Linked DNA regions of Homo sapiens: region 2 is linked to region 1. Evidence: fine-mapped expression QTL. Tissue or cell type: whole blood. Region 1 holds a variant in brackets; the other region holds the start of a gene. All regions are shown on one strand. Distances are from middle to middle.

Region 1 (8,102 bases):
AAGAATTAGAAAATAGTTTTAACTGACTGGGTGATCTGACCTAGGGACTGTAAAGCAAAACTAGGATTCTAGTAGCTTAAGGGTCATGGCATACAGAATCAAATAATTTCCTTAAAACAATGAAATCATCATAGTAAAATGGCGCCATAACACACCATTCAGAGAAGATTCTGCTCAAGGGCTGTTATATGCCACACTTCTAAATTTAATTTCTGGTGGGACTGTGTGAGTCACTATAGCAAAGAATCTAATGCTATCTTAAAAAGATTTTAAAACCCCAAAGGATTTTGACCTCTCAAGATAACTTCAACAGAGTGAACAAAAAAGTGAGGAAGAAAAGAACCTATCTCACTAAACTTGAAGGCTGTCTCAAGCAAACCTCTCATAAAAAGCTCTACATTCCCACATAATTAACTTCAGGGCCCCAGAGTTAAGGGCTCTATAATCTCATGACCCTCAAAGAAAACCTGGCTCCAGGGCAGCCAGGAATCAAACAGTCTCCTACCCGGATGGGCGGGACTTTGGGCTCCTCTTTAGTGGGCTGTGGCTTTTCGGTGTGAACACTTTCAATTGTGTTACGAAAGGACTGACGATCTTCAAGCCGGGGCTTCTTTTCGGGAAAGGATGCAGAGGCCGCCTGCTCAAAGGATTTCCTCTTCTGATCCTTGGGTTCCTGATCCACAGTTTCCTGAGGCAGGCTAGGAATTCTGTCTGGAGATGCAGAGGCACGTGCCAAGTTGTCTGGCTCAGCCTGGATCCGAGAAGCCACAGACTCAACTGGGAATTCGGGACCCTCCAGGTCGGGTGCTGCAGAGGATGTGCCTGGCAGATGGGGACTGCTCAGCCCTGCTGGGTCAGTCTTAGCCTCCCCATCCTTGTAGAGGGGAACATCTGAGGCCACAGATTTTGCATCCTTAGCAACCCCTGCTTGTTCTGACTCCTGTTTTTTGTACAGATTCCTTCTGGCTCTGGTTCGGAGATCTGGCCGAGAGCGTTTCTTAAAATGCCCATCTCGCTGTCGGGTGGCTGGACCACGCTGTATACGCACTGATTCTCCTGGGACACACAAGCCACTTTTGATTTCAGCCTCCTCCTGGCCCACGTTCTGCTGCAATGACTCTTCTTTGGTCAAACCCAGCCTGCAAATCAAAATCACAGCCATCAGTTTCAGGCCAGAGTGGACATGTCTCTTATTTCTATGAATAATATGGACCCAGAAACACAGATATCTCAGAACAAAATAAATCTGTGTGGTGCACAATCTAACCATGGAAAAACTTCTGTTAGCTTCACTATGAATGGCATTAAGATAAATGACCCAAGTGTCACTGCAATCTCCACATTCTTGTCCAACACATAAGTATATGCTATTTTGAGACCATCTACCTCTATCCCCTCAAAACCCCAGACCAGGACTCATAGCTCCAACTGCCTTACTTCTGTCCATAGTAGTCTTCAAAGAACTTTTCTTTCCATTGTTCCACCTTCTTTTCCTTCTCCATTTCCTGTCGTATCCTGACTTGCATCTCATGAGTAAATTCACCTAGGGAGAAATAAACCTCTTCTAGTAAGTGCATTCGGGATATTAATGTCTGTCTTATGGACAGCTGAATCTCCCAGTTTTAAAACAACACGTCTCTTCTAAAGGCTCTCTCACATCATGCTCTTATAGGGACAGAGCTAACACATCTACTATAAGGGAAATTCACTCTTCCTTAAAGTGAGACCAAGCAACTCCTTGATCGAAAAAGCAAAACAACAAACAAAAGAACCATTCATATTTCCTGTGTAGATAAAAAGTTAACATAGTAGGTAGGCCTGATTGTTTACTCTTAGAAAGGCCTACTTAAAAGAACAGCCCTTGGCTGACATCTGGGAACTTAGATTTCAGGAGGGTTCCCAACCACCCTAACTGATATGAGTTGTTCACTGTGCCTAAATTGTTTATGCAAACAATACGGCTTATGCTGAACACCTGCCTTCCTTTTGGGAATCTGGAAGCTGGGTATGTGCCAAGCAGTGGCTTCCTACATGATCAGCCCTTGATAAAAACCCTGGGCACCGAGTCTTTAACAGGTTTCCCTAGTAGACATTTCATACATGTTATCATAACTTGTTACTGGGGGAATTAAATGTGTCCTGTGTGACACCACTGAGAGAGGACCTTGGAAGCCAACACATGGTTTCCCCTGGACCCCACCCCATGTGCCTCTCCATCTGCTGATTTTACTTTGTATTCTTCTGCTGTAATAAACCGCAGCCCTGTACATATAACTATATGCTGAGTCCTGCTAGCAAATCATCAAACCTAGGGGTGTTCTTAGAGCCCTCTCAACACTTTCCCCACAAAATTAAATTAATAGAAGCTAACAATCACTCCAAGTGACAATGCCTAAAAAGACAGAGCATGGTGGAGCTTCTCAACTCCACAGTGTACTTTCCTCCACCCTTCCAGACCATGCCATGATTACTGGAATAGGTGTTTATAGTTTTAATGATAAAAAGGAGATGATGAATGAGTACATACATACAATATAGTGAAAGTCTAAACCTAAACACCCTGTTATTTCTTCAGAGCTGTGTGGCATATTAATACCCACCACATTTATTAGTAATGAGGAAAGCCTGTCTTATACTAAATAACCCTTTGAGAAGAGCGAGCTTGGGTTTTAAATACCAGGAGACATGCAACACCACACGACAGGTGCGTCGCAAGCCGTCCGAGATGACCAAGTCTACATACCATCAGCCAGGCGCTCCCGCCAGCTCTGAGCCGCATGGGTAAAAAACTCGTTATTTAGTGCACTGCTGCTGAGACGCAACAGGCCATCCGTCCCCACCTAGAAGGATCAAGGGGGAAAAAAATCCTAATAAATAAACTTAAAAGAGAACAGAAGCCCACCCAGAGAGAGGCAAAGGGGAGGCTGCCCATGTGCACCTGTCTGTCTACTTCAGGCAGGAGGAAGAGGAGCTGCTGCTGGAAGTGTGATGGTAAGGCATGGAAGGTCCGAGAGTTGATCAGGGCACGGAGGTTGGTGTTGACAAGAATGGACCCAGGTGTCTCAAAATCTATTTCTTCCCCTCTGTTGCGCTTCATTTGACCTATGATTTTTGAAGCAAGGTATAGATTTCAGCTTTTTAAAAGAAAAAACAAATGCCAACTGATGGGAAAACTTTGGTGACAGCACCCAAGCTACCCAGGAGTTATCTGCACACAATCTGCTCAATTGTCCAGTCCATCCTAACCTGTATATTCTTTCCAGGTTACTGTCATTGCCATCAAACCCAGGAGAACACTTGGGGTTGCATCTCCTCAGACAAAACTCTGTACCGTGCTGTGTCACA[G/A]CCTGAAAAGGACACTTCCCACAGAAAATCAGGCAAGGGGCAGGTTCTGAGCTTCCCTCCAAAGCTGGAGAACAGGCTCCACAAAGCTCAACTGGAGAAATCATGAGAATTATCTAAAAGTAAATCTAGTTAGTATACTATAGAAAAATCTGCAGAAGCCTTCTGTGAATGGGCTGGAGAGGGATGATCTCCATGCAGAAATGTACTAAGGACTGTTCAAAGCCAACTGAGATGCTAATACCTCTCACAGAAGCCTCAGCAAATGTTACTTTTATCTGAAAAACTCACTAGGACTAGAGACCTGTGAGACCTTAGATTGAGCACTGCTGATGAGCTGGAAAAGCAGCAAGACAGCAAACCTAGTTCTCACATGGGCAAAGGTTTACTCTAATTCTCAGAAGCAAAAGCTTGTCTTCTTAATGGTTTCATCTACAAAAAAAACCAGCATGTGGGTCATTAAGAATTAAATCCTGAAATAGCAAAGAGCATACTAATATTGCAAATAACCCTAATGGGGGTGGGGTGGGGTGAGGGGTGGGAGGTATAGATAATAGCACTACTGAATTTGTTTGCATCCCCAAAATTCAACACATGCTTCCACTCAACATACTGACTAGGTTGTAAAAAAGGGAGCGTCTGATACAGACTACAGATGTTGGGAACAAATGTGGCAACATGCTACCGAAGAGAGAAAAGGGGTGTTGGAATTCTTCACTGAGAAGCTCAGAAGCAGTTTTCACTCACTCAAACACTTACTATGCAGTACAAGGCAGGCATAGACTAGGCCTACAGGGACATACGAGAAACAGTATGGCATCATCTCTGCCTGAAAGGAGTTCTCACAGTTTAGCAGAGAGCTACAAATGAAATAAGCAAATTACAAAGTAAAAATAAACAAAAAATAGAGGGCCACCCAAGAAGTAAAAATAAACTGGTAAAGGAATTGGAATAGAAGACATCATCTTCTCACTAGGCCTGCAGGGGCCCCCTTTACAGGCAGAGAAATAAGTGCCACGCCACTCACCTGTGGCTGGCTTCCGGAAGCCTCTCAGGAGCGGGGCAGGGTCCTGGGTGACCTCGGCCTGGCCACGAATAGCAGCGCTGCCCAGGGCCAGAGAGCCGCTGCTGCTGCTGGACGGGCTGCCGCTCTCGCCATCGGCGTGGCAGCCCGAGAACCCTGAAGGCACAGCATTCCACTGGTCAAAAGTATCACCAAGCCGCGCCCATGGCTCTCAGACAAGCTCATTTCTCCCAGCTCTCCCTGAGATGCTGCCAGCAATACTGGGATGCTTCCATCTCCCAGCCTTAGGCTGAGAGAAACCACCACTTCATGGTCTGGCTTTAAAATATCACCTTACAGGTGCCAAACTGCCATCTTTATTTGTATAGCACTACACCTTTTACAAAGCACTGGCATAATCAAATCCTCCGTTGGATCCTCACGACTGCCCTGGGAGACAAAGAGGAAGGCACACAGCAGAGCCCAGCACTAGAACCTATGGCAGGCCTCATCCATTGGCAGGGCTCTTGCCTGTGGCCCGACAGCTCTCCTAGTATCGCACTATTAGGTCAGAAACTGCTGACAGAGGGAGGCCAGGTCCCCAGGACCTGAGGAAAAAGCATCACAACCATGAGTTTACACATACCTGATGCAGATTCCACGTGGGCCCCGTTTACCTTCAGAGGAGTCAGGACAACTCGAGGCAGCATCACCCCAGTCTTTTTCTTTTGTTTGTTCGCCTGCGTTCCAAGAGAGAACAAAAGAGAGCCCAAGTCAACTGCAGAGCCACAAAAGCATTCCCTGGCGACACTATCTCTACTCACGCTCTTGTAAAATGAAGTTCGTCTTCAACCAGATCTGTCAAATAATGCTGACAAGAGCACTGGTTAATGTTACTGAGCTACGTGCTGGTCACTGTGCCAAGCATCATTCCAAGCTACAAAAATGTACTGTTATCCCCATTTTACAGGTAAGGAATTTTCCCCAAGTCTCAAGGCTAGTAAGTGCAGGGTTATCATTCAAACTGCTCACTCCCAATCTCCTGTTCTCTCTACTCTGCACTAACCACACTTCTCCCTGAATGTTCACGTGTATATTACAAGAATGAACAGAATCAGGCTAGGCATGGTGACTCACACCTGTAATCCCAGCACTTTGGGAGGCTGAGGTGGACAGACCACTTGAGGTCAGGAATTCGAGACTAGCCTGGCCAACATGGCAAAACCCTATCTCTACTAAAAATACAAATATTAGCCAGGCACGGTGGTACGTGCCTGTAATCCCAGCTACTCGGGAGGCTGAGGCAGGAGAATTGCTTGAACCCCAGAGGCAGAGGTTGCAGTAAGCGGAGATCATGCCACTGCACTCCAGCCTGAGCGACAGGCGCGACTCCATCTCAAAAAAAAAAAAAAAAAAAAAAAAAAAGAATGAACAAAATCACTCAGCCAAGGTAAAGAAAGAGAAAAAACTTACTCTGCTCAAACCTACTGTTCACTTTTCCTGCGGCCCCCTGTTAAATGCTACTAACAGCTGGAGACCAGACTTCTATTCTTCACTCTCTGAACATGTTCACAGCTCACTACAGGAGAAGGAGGGATCTTGCCTTATACCTGTCATCATTCATCCTCCCAGGCTAGGCTCTACCTCTTCCTTACCTGTGAGGAAGCTCTGTAGCTGTCCCTGGGATTGGAAAGAGGTCGACTCTGAGATTCTGTAGAACAGGATGCGTTCGAAGATGTTTCATCAAGAGATACTGGAAGAGAGGAAAATAAAGGTTAGTCCCTAGTGCCTGCTGTGGCTCCCTCACCCATCCATTAAAGGGTCCTTACCATCGTTTTCACCACTCACAGTGCTGGCTTCATTAGACCCACAGCTCTCCACATCAGCCGTGTCCTCTGGCTCCTCTCCCTCCACTGTAGCTGGATGGCGAGACCACTGCAGGGCATCCTTCTGTGACAGCAAGGTACAACTCAGGTGAACAAAACCCTACAAATTCTTAAAGCAAGGCAGTCATTCCTAAATGTGTATGCTTTTGAAAAAGAGGGATTTAGAATACTGACAAGTTCCTAACCCTTTCTAACTGACCTTTTTCTCAGCAAGTTCTTTTCATAAATATATCATTAAGAAAGTTAGATACACTTTTGCATTCAAACATTCATTAAACATTTATAGGGTGCCTCCTATAAGCTATACCATGTTAGTTCTGGGGAGGGTGGAGTGCTAAGGAGCAGGAATCAAGGCCCTGCTCTCAAGGAGCTCAAATAAGTAGGGGGGTCAATTAAACTGATTACAATACAAAGTACAGTACATAGGTGAACATGGAGAGCCGTGGCAGCCCAGAAGAGGGGCACCTAACTTCAATGAGTTGAGCGAAAGACGGCATGGAGGTGAATAACGATCAGGGAAGTAACACATCCAAAAGGATGTGTTGCTTAAGCTGGGTTTTAAAATAAATTAGCAACTAGACAGACAGGTTGGCAGTAGAGAGATTGTAGGAAGTTTCTAGATAGTGGGATGAGCAAATGTGAAAGAATATTCCAAACTCAGGGAAACTAGGGCTGTGGGGAACTCAATATGCAGGAAGCTAGAGAGGGCACGAGGGCAGATGGTAAGACCCATGTGGAGGGATCAAGAATTTGATTGTTCCGGAGTCACTGAAGAATATTAACTACAGGAATGATTTGAGTTTTCGGAATTTCATCTGGCAACCGCGGGAAGCCTAGAGGCAGGAAGAAGAGGTAGACACTATGAAAGATGTCCAACAAAAAATGCCAAAGATCTAAACCAAAGATTGTGGCTACAGGGCTAGAGTGTAGAGGAGAACTCCATCCCAAATTTCACCTCCTAAGAAAAGCTTCTTCCAATAGACTCACGACATGTAGACTCAGAATTAAACTCTACCCATTCCCAAGAAGAACTTGGGAGTTATCTCACACCTCAAAACTACAAAGAGTGTGGATGAGAATACTGGCAGTTGGAGACAAGAAGAAGATAAGTTGGGGCAGAGGAGGAGAATGTCTTCTTTGAATAAAAGTATGTGAAAAAGAGTTGATAAAGTCATGATTCTGCTAAAAAGGCACCATAAATTTAAAACAGGTGCCCACAACAATCTAACTCATCAATTTCATGAGTCTCTTGATCCACTACATTGAAGTTTCATCAATTTATTTTCATTAGTTTTAGCCAAAATCATGTATCTTAAATTAATAAAAAAGAGGCCAGGTGCAGTGGCTCACTCACACCTGTAATCCCAGCACTTTGGGAGGCTGAGGCAGGTGGATCACGAGGTCAGGAGATTGAGACCATCCTGGCCAACACGGTGAAACCCTGTTTCTACTAAAATACAAAAAATTAGCCAGGTGTGGTGGCACGCGCCTGTAGTACCAGCTACTCGGGAGGCTAAGGCAGGGGAATCACTTGAACCCAGGAGGTGGAGGATGCAGTGAGCTGAGATTACGCCACTGCACTCCAGCCTGGCGACAGAGCAAGACTCCATCTCAAAAAAAAAAAAAAAAAAAAAAAAGAAAGAAAAAAAAGAAAACAGTTTTCTACATCTTTACCTCTTTTCCTTACTGGCCATACATGGTCTTCAGAATCAAAAGCTAAATAATATTTTTAGTTATGCTTATTGACTGCCATGTTCTTGGTATAATAAAACAAATTTAATCTCTCTTCTCTCATGGGCAAACTAAGATAAAATACTCCTTAATGAATTAAGAAAGTCTATTACACTGGCAAAGTTACCCCAAATCTCCAG
Region 2 (8,102 bases), 71 kb after region 1:
CAATTATTTAAACAGCAATCAGAAATAGCCTGAGAATTTAAGACAGGGGAAACAGAATCTCTAAAGGGAAGTTACATCAAAAGATACAAAGTATTCTTTTTTATTAAAACTGTTTATGCCTCCAGCTCTTGGTATAAGAACAAGTCAGCAGTGTTCTATTCCTAGTCTCTTTCTAGACTACATTTTTTTTTTTAAGTATCTCTTCTCTTACTTCAAAGGGGAAAAAAATGTTTGATGTAAGAACTGGTCAGTCATGAATCAAAGTAAAAGATAAAGCATACAACAAAGAGTTTCTCGAAGCCAGGGAGAATCCATTTAGCGTCCTCGATTTAAAGGGAAATCCCCTTGGCTATTTCTCCCAAACAAACTGTTTATAACAAGTTGGAGGATTTATATCCACTCAACCACATAAGGTCTACTTCTTACACCTAGAAAAGACAATACTACAAAATGTGTGAAAGAAAGACTATTTTTCAACAGCATAATTAACATCTGCAAAAATCAATCTCCTGGGGTACACTATACTGAAATTCTTAAGAATCTTCTTTCCTCTACGAAAGGTTTTTTTGTTGTTGTTGTTTTGTTTGTTTGTTTTTGAGACAGAGTCTTGCTCTGTCGCCCAGGCTGGATGGAGTGCAGTAGCTCGATCTCGGCTCACTGCAAGCTCCGCCTCCCGCGTTCACGCCATTCTCCGGCCTCAGCCTCCCGAGTAGCTGGGACTACAGGCACTCGCCACCACGCCTGGCTAATTTTTTGTATTTTTAGTAGAGATGGGGTTTCACCGTGTTAGCCAGGATGGTCTCGATCTCCTGACCTCGTGATCCGCCCGCCTCGGCCTCCCAAAGTGCTGGGATTACAGGCGTGAGCCACCGCGCACAGCCTACAAAAACAATTTTTAAAAGGATTCCCAGTAACACTCTAGTCACCAATCTGAGTGGGGTCAGGAGCAATCTGAAAGCGTTCCCATGGAAGTGCATACAATTGCCATTGCAAGCACTCCAAATTCACCTGCCCAAAGAGAAGTGTTCAGGTGTTCTAATCAACTGTCCTACGTTCCCTCCTAGTCAAGTTTCTCTCAGTCCAGTGTACGCTCTCACAAATTCTCCAGTACAGTGTTACAGCAACTTTTTTTAAACATTAAGAGGACTGGTTTTTTCTTTTGTTTTGTTTTTGAGACAGAGTCTCACTGTCGCCGCTGGAGTGCAGTGGTGTGATCTGGGTTCACTGCAACCTCCACCTCCCGAGTTCAAGTGATTCTCCTGCCTCAGCCTCCCGAGTAGCTGAGGTTACAGGCATGCACCATCACCATGCCTGGCTAATTTTTGTATTTTTAGTAGAGACGGGGTTTCACCATGTTGGCCAGGCTGGTCTCGAACTTCTGGCCTCAGGTGATCCGTCTGCCTCGGCCTCCCAAAGAGCTGGGATTACAGGCGTGAGCCACCGTGCCCGGCCTGGGACTCTTAAAAAGTTCCCCCTCACCTACCATCCAGTCCCATTCAAAGAAATGGAAAATTCTAAAACAAAAAACACACACAAGATACTCAAATTGCATATCACATTCTCAACAAGTCCTTTTTCTTTTTTTCTTTTTTTTTTTTTTTTGAGACGAGTCTTGCTCTGTCACCCAGGCTGGACAGTGGCATGGCCTTGGCTCTCTGCAACCTCCACCTCCCAAGTTCAAGTGATTCTCCTGTCTCAGCCCCCTCAGTAGCTGGGATTACAGGCGTGCACCACCACACCCGGCTAATTTTTGTATTTTTAGTAGAGACTGGGTTTTACCTTGTTGGCCAAGCTGGTCTAGAACTCCTGACCCTGTGATCCACCCACCTCGGCGTCCCAAAGTGCTGGGATTACAGGCGTGAGCCACAGCGCCCAGCCTCATTATTTTTTTAGAGTCAGGGTCTCCCTCTATCACCCAGGCTGGAGTGCAGTGGTACAATCAATCATTGGGCACTGCAGCCTCCAACTCCTCGGCCTAAGCTATCCTCAGCCTCCTGAGTAGCTAGGACCACAGGTGTGTACCACCATGCCCAGCTCATTTTGTTGCTGTTGTTGTAGAGACCGGGTCTATGTTGCCCAGGCTCATCTCGAATTCCTAGCCTCAAGTGATTATTCCACCTCAGACTCCCAAAGTCTCGCAAATCCTTTTTCACATGTATAACAGCACCACAAAGTAATTCCTACTCATAGGCTGGGCGCGGTGGCTCACGCCTGTAATCCCAGCACTTTGGGAGGCCAAGGTGGGCGGATAACCTAAGGTCACGAGTTCGAGACCAGCCTGACCAGCATGGAAAAACCCCATCTTTACTAAAAATAAAAAATTAGCCGGGTGTGGTGGCAAACAAACGAAAAACAAACAAACAAAGTAATTCCTATTCATATTACTATTTTTAATGAAGAGCCTTAGAAGAAAAAGAGGAATAACTTACCCTGATAACCTGGCTTGAAGTTGAGTCAATGATAAAACAGAAATAGCAACCTCGATGTTGAAGTTCAGACCACGGTAAATTCGAGAATCTAAAGAGACTTAACAGTGGACCCCAAATTCCTAAAGTCAACTAGTAAGAGCCAACAGAACTTTGAGACAAACAGATTTCATAATTCTGTCAAGACATAAATAACACAAGACTTAAAAGTACTTTCACCTACCTCTAACAAGTAAAACTCTGGCAAGCAAATTTCCTTGGGTGCCCAGGGTCATAAACACCCGCATAACAGGAACGCCAAGGAGAATGTCAATGAACACACAAAACTCATTGTCGAGGAGGAGAACGAGAGCTCTCTCCCACTCCCCATCAGGCCTATATTTGTTTCCAGGTGCAGAACCGTTAGAGAAATCCTGAAATTTCTACAAGATCCTGAAAACTAGCCCAAGCTTCCAATTTTGACTCAATCAGAAAAAAAATATTTCGGAACCTCAAAATCTTCAAACTTCACATGCCAGGCCAAAATAAACTGAAGCACAAAACTTCAGCATACAAACAATTGCTATTTTTGTTCCCTGGGCAACAAATGACTAGGGAAGAGGATAGCAAGCACCAATGAAAATTCTGTAGCCCAAATTCCTTCAGTTTTTATAAATCTGTAACTTTTACAGACTTCGAGAAAGAAAAAGGTGTACTTCAGGTTTGTGTCAACCCCCCCAATACAGTCTATTTTTTTTTTTTTTGCACAACACCTTTGAAGCAGAAAACTCACTTCAAAATAAGAGAGAAAATTAAGTCTGAGCTTCACTCATCATTAAAACTGAATTACAACCATTACATATAAACTACAGTGTCAAGAGACACTTATGCTATCCGCACCACAACCTCGCTGTGTGACAGATCTTAGGAACTGACATCTTAGTATAACCTGTTACTACTGGTATCAGCAGATAATTACCCGAATATGTCTCAAAGTGTCTGAGCTTTGTGGGAGTAATCCAAAAGGAAGCTATTTCACCTGCAAGTCCTCTGACGCTCTGAACACAAAATTCACAACCCCCATCGGTTGAACGAGACGGCTTCAAACACTCAAGTTACGCTCTCCCTTGCTAAATCCTCAGTGAACAACGTCTCCCAACAGAGATACTTTGTCTTTGTCCAACATACATTCTTTGCAAAGTGGATTCAGTTCTCCTCAAAATACCAATTTCCAGTCCAGCTTCTGAAGGCAAACAGCCCAGTCTGCGTTTCTCAAAGTGGGGTCCGTGAGCCACTGCGTTTGAATCACCTGGGAAGCTGGTGAAAGCGCAGATTCCCAGGCTCTATCCCAGACCCTGAGGCTCAGCAGGTCTTACGAAGGGCCCTAGGAGTAGCGTTCCTAACCGCCTCCCAGGTGTCGCCCACAGGACACTAAAGTTAGAGAACCGCTGCTCAGGGTTCAAGCTGGGAGTAAGCACTTGCTTCCCTCCACGCACCTGGTTTAGATTGGGAAAGCTCAACATGCCATTGGCGTCCTTGAATGTGGGGTCGCTTTTCCACCCCCGGAGTCAAAGGCACCACCCCATTACCCACCAGGAAGCGAGGGAGGAGCTTCCGACCCTTCCCGGAAACCCAACTCCCCCGGGTGAATGAACGAAGCTGCCCCAGACCCCCAGACGCTGCCAAATAGTGGGGGAGGGGACGCGGGACCCCGCTGCCCAGAGTGGGAGGAGCCGGCCTGCCAGCTCGCCCCTCCGCCGGAATTTAGCTGCGCGGGGCGGGGGGGGCGCGAGGGCGAGCGGAAAAAGGCGCCACATCCCATCCCGGCGGAGCGCTCCCCACCCCTCGCCTTGCGGGGCTGTCCCGTTCTTAAAGGAAGATGGCCCCGCCCCCTCCCGCGGTGGGCAGGGCCTTGCCCCTCCCCCCCCAGTGGGGGGGTGCGCGGCGAGCCCCCCCCACCCCGGGCCCCACGGAGCCCCCCTCGGCTGTCCGCCTCACCAGGCGCGCGGCCTCGGCCCACGTGCGCTCCTTCTTCTTCTTCTGTTTGTCCTTCATCCTTCTCCCCGGCGGCGGCGGCAGCTCCACGCGGGACCTCCGGGCTGGGCGGGCTGGGGCGGTGGCGCGGGGCTGGGGCGGCGGCGGCGGTGGGGGGGGCGCGTGGCAGCGGCGGCGCGCGAGGTCTCGGGTGCGGCCGGGGAGAAGGGGCGGGCACGCGGGGACCGGCTGGCGCGAGAGCGGCGGTGGGGGAGGGGCGGCGGCGGCTCCACGCGCCCGCGCTGCGTCAGTCGCCCACGGCGGCAGCGGCGGCTGCCCCGCGATCGCTAAGGAATGCGGCGGCTCCGCATAACCACGGGGTCAGAGGTCACGGCTCCGGCCTCCGCTTTCCCGCTCTGCTGAGGGACTGAGACAGGACCGACGGCGGGGCGGGAGGGCGAGACGCGGCTTTCCCTTCGGCGCCCGGGTGCGTGCGTGTCTGCCGTGGGTGTGTGTGAGTGTGTGTGAAGAGTGAGGAGGGGGAGTGTGGGGTTTTTTTTTTTTGAACAAAAACAAACCGAAAGGGCGCCTGGGAGTCGTAGTCCCAACGGCCTCTCTGGCCTCCCCCGCTCCGGAAGAATATGGCCGCGTGAAGCGCGTGGACCACACTTCCCGGCGTGCCCGGCGGCCCCCTTCCGCTCTCCCTCTCGCGTCCTCCGCCTAGCACCGACCTCAGCTAGGAACGGGGACGGGTCGCTGTTCGGGGAAGGGGCTGGGTGGAGTCTCGCGAGGTGCGAGAACTGGCTGGGGGCCTGCGGGATTCTGGGAGGCGATGCTGGGAAGGGGCGGTGGCTGGGCTCCCCCGGCCACCCTTAACCCCTTCGGTGCTTTTTGCTTCAGGACCTCCTGGCGGGTGCGGGTGGGGAGTGAGGATGGGGAGCTCGACTCGCAGTTCCCACTTCGTGCTTCTCCTCGCCTAAACGGTTCTTACCTACACTTCTCGTAGGGGACGAGAGGCAGGACTTTCCCTTTTGGTCACCTCTAAATGACTCACTGCCACATAATAATGAGACAAAAAGACCCTCATACCAGTAAAACGGTTATTCCACGGCTGATGGACTTAGACGGTTCTTCATTTCTTCCTGTGCTTTCAGGCCGCTGTGTATTTGCAGAGCCTGCACCAGCAGCCTAGAGCGTTCTTAGGAACTTGGTGATATGTTGACGGGTCGTGTAAAGAACTTGGACTCTGGGGCCATACTGACCAGAATGCACCTGAGGGCGTTTTTAGAGGCAGTACCCTGGAGAGAATTCAGGCCCTGGAGTCCAGCGGACCTAGACTGGAATCTTGGCTGAGTCACTCCCTGGCTGTCCACTCAACCTCTCTGAGCCTCAGTTTTCTGATCTGCATTTGTCTTGTATTTCATGGCATTATTGGAATTAAAATTAACATACAATTCTTGACAGATTGGAAGAGGATGTGAAGGGAGATCTTGACATTATCAGGTCCGTATGATATGGCGCCTGGCATAGAGCAAATGTTTAATAAATGGTAGCTGTTATTACCAGCTGAGAAACAATAGGCAATATACTTAGCCTCTCTGAGCCTTAGTTTTAGAACCTGAAATGAAATTCAGAGCGCCCAGCACATAGGTTTTCTGTAACTATAGGTTCAGTCGTTGTCCAGAAACATTTCTAGAGTCCGTCCGGAGTTGGATTGATGCCAGCTCTTAAAAACTATGAAGGCAGGATCAGTGGCCACATTTAAACGGTTTCCCTGGGTGAGGAAACACACTCTCCACTCCCTAATGTTAACACGTAGCGAGAGCCAGTATTGATAGGAGACCATTATGGTGTAGCCCAAACTCTAACGCCAAGGGGTTCAGTGTTTTCTGCTTCTAATACTGGTCACAGAAAACTTGTGAGTCCGGTAAGCAAAATCCTACAAAGGGAAAAGACTGCAAGTTAGAATAAGACACCTCTTAAAAATCTCTCTAGCTTTACCCTGAGAGAAAGGAGGAACTACTGTCCCTCAAAAAACTGTTTGCCTTGATTTTTTACAAAGGATTTTTAACTTCTTTTTTTTCAATCTACGGCTGATACAGTACTCTTTGGCAAGTCATTTGGCTTCTTTCCGATGTCTTCTGAAGTAGCTTTACTGCCCTCTGACCTACAGGGAATAACTGAAATTTACATGTTTAATACAGGTACTGTGGTAGACAGAATAATGTCTTCCCCGCTTGCCCAAAACTGTCCAAGTCCTAGTCCCTGGAACCTGTGAATATGTTGCTTTTTTATTTATTTATTTATTTATTTTTTGAGACAGAGTCTCGCTGTGTTACCCAGGCTGGAGTGCAGTGGCGTGATCTTGGCTAACTGCAACCTCCGCCTCCTGGGTTCATGCGATCCTCCTGCCTCAGCCTCCCAAGTAGCTGAGATTACAGGCATGCGCTACCATGCCCAGCTAATTTTTGTATCTTTAGTAGTGACTGGGTTTCTCCATGTTGGCCAGGCTGGTCTTGAACTCCTGACCTCAGGTGATCCACCCATCTCGGCCTCCCAAAGTGCTGGGATTACCAGCCAGCATTCTTTGGCAAAAGATATTTTGCCAATGGAAATAAAGCCCTTAAAATTAGATGATTCCGTATTATATGGGTGAGCCCAGTGTAATCACATGAACCCTTAAAAGCACAAAAGGGAGGCAAAAGAGATGTTTTGGAGAGATGAGGCAGAGGAATTAAATTCAAAGTATGAGAGGAATTCAACCCACTGTTACTGGCTTTGAAAGTGGCCACAAGCCAGGGAATCCAGGCAGCCTCCAAAAGCTCAGAGGAAGTCCTGCCAAGAGCCAGCAAGGAAATGGGGACTTCAGTCCTACAACCTCACAGAGCTGAATTCTGACAAGCTGAATGAACTTGGGAACAGATTATACCCCCTCCCCAACTCTCTAGAAAGGAATATAGACACCTTGATTTCAGCCTCGTGAGACTGGAAGCAGAGAATCAGCTGAGCCATGGAATCCAGACGTCGGGCCCACAAGAAGCGTGAAACAGAAATGAATATTGTTTTATGACACTAAATCTGTGGTAACTTCTTACAGCCCCAAAAGAAAGCTAATACAGGCATTATGGAAACACCTTTATTTCTTTCAGCGAACACTGCCTGACTTCAGCTGGGTCAAACCATGGGGGAATCCAGATTTGAATATTTCAAGGTCTCTGCCCTTGCAGAATCAGACAGAAACAAGTGACAACATCGTAGTTAAGTGTGAAAACAGTATGTTCAGAGAACGGTACAGATATGTTAGAAAGTTGGCTTTAGTCATTAAACCTTAAGTAGATGTGATTTTTTTAAAGTTAATGAGATTCATGAGTTTATTTTCTTGTCAGAAGCACCAACAGACAAACCTATACATTTTTGGTGTGTGTTTTTCTGTTTTTTAATCACAGTGCTTTTATTATAGATTATCTTCAGAAGTTAGTGCAGGTGGCATGTGGAAGATAAACAGGACAGACACTCAACCCTGCCTAGTTTGGGGATGAGTCACTTTTCAAACTGCACAGTTATAAGCAAAGTGCATATTCAAGAACCAAGTTAACAGGCCACCAGCAGACACCCAGGAATTCCCAAAGGGACACATATATCCCATAAACTGCACTGCAAGATAATATATTCTCATTGGCTCTGCATGTCAGCAGGCCTGGGTTTGAATCTCTGCAGTCTTTC

Evidence for each region. PIP is the estimated chance that this variant, and not a neighbour inherited with it, causes the effect.
Region 2: ASXL1 starts here. The variant in region 1 is fine-mapped to the expression of ASXL1 in whole blood (TOPMed, PIP 0.91).

The regions. Positions count from the first base shown.
Region 1 is chr20:32,426,321-32,434,422 of GRCh38, reverse strand. It overlaps ASXL1 (ASXL transcriptional regulator 1), which reads right to left. Exons shown (of 13, transcript NM_015338.6): 5 at 6,175-6,295; 6 at 6,001-6,098; 7 at 4,992-5,085; 8 at 4,370-4,522; 9 at 2,939-3,102; 10 at 2,744-2,840; 11 at 1,438-1,543; 12 at 506-1,139. Among named protein-coding and RNA genes, the nearest start is that of ASXL1, 72 kb to the right of the region's middle. The variant G/A (reference allele first, on the strand shown) is at 3,346.
Region 2 is chr20:32,355,134-32,363,235 of GRCh38, reverse strand. It overlaps ASXL1 (ASXL transcriptional regulator 1), which reads right to left and starts at 4,905. Exons shown (of 13, transcript NM_015338.6): 1 at 4,404-4,905. The coding sequence starts at 4,460. RefSeq lists silencers at 4,206-4,365, 4,606-4,655, 7,604-7,673.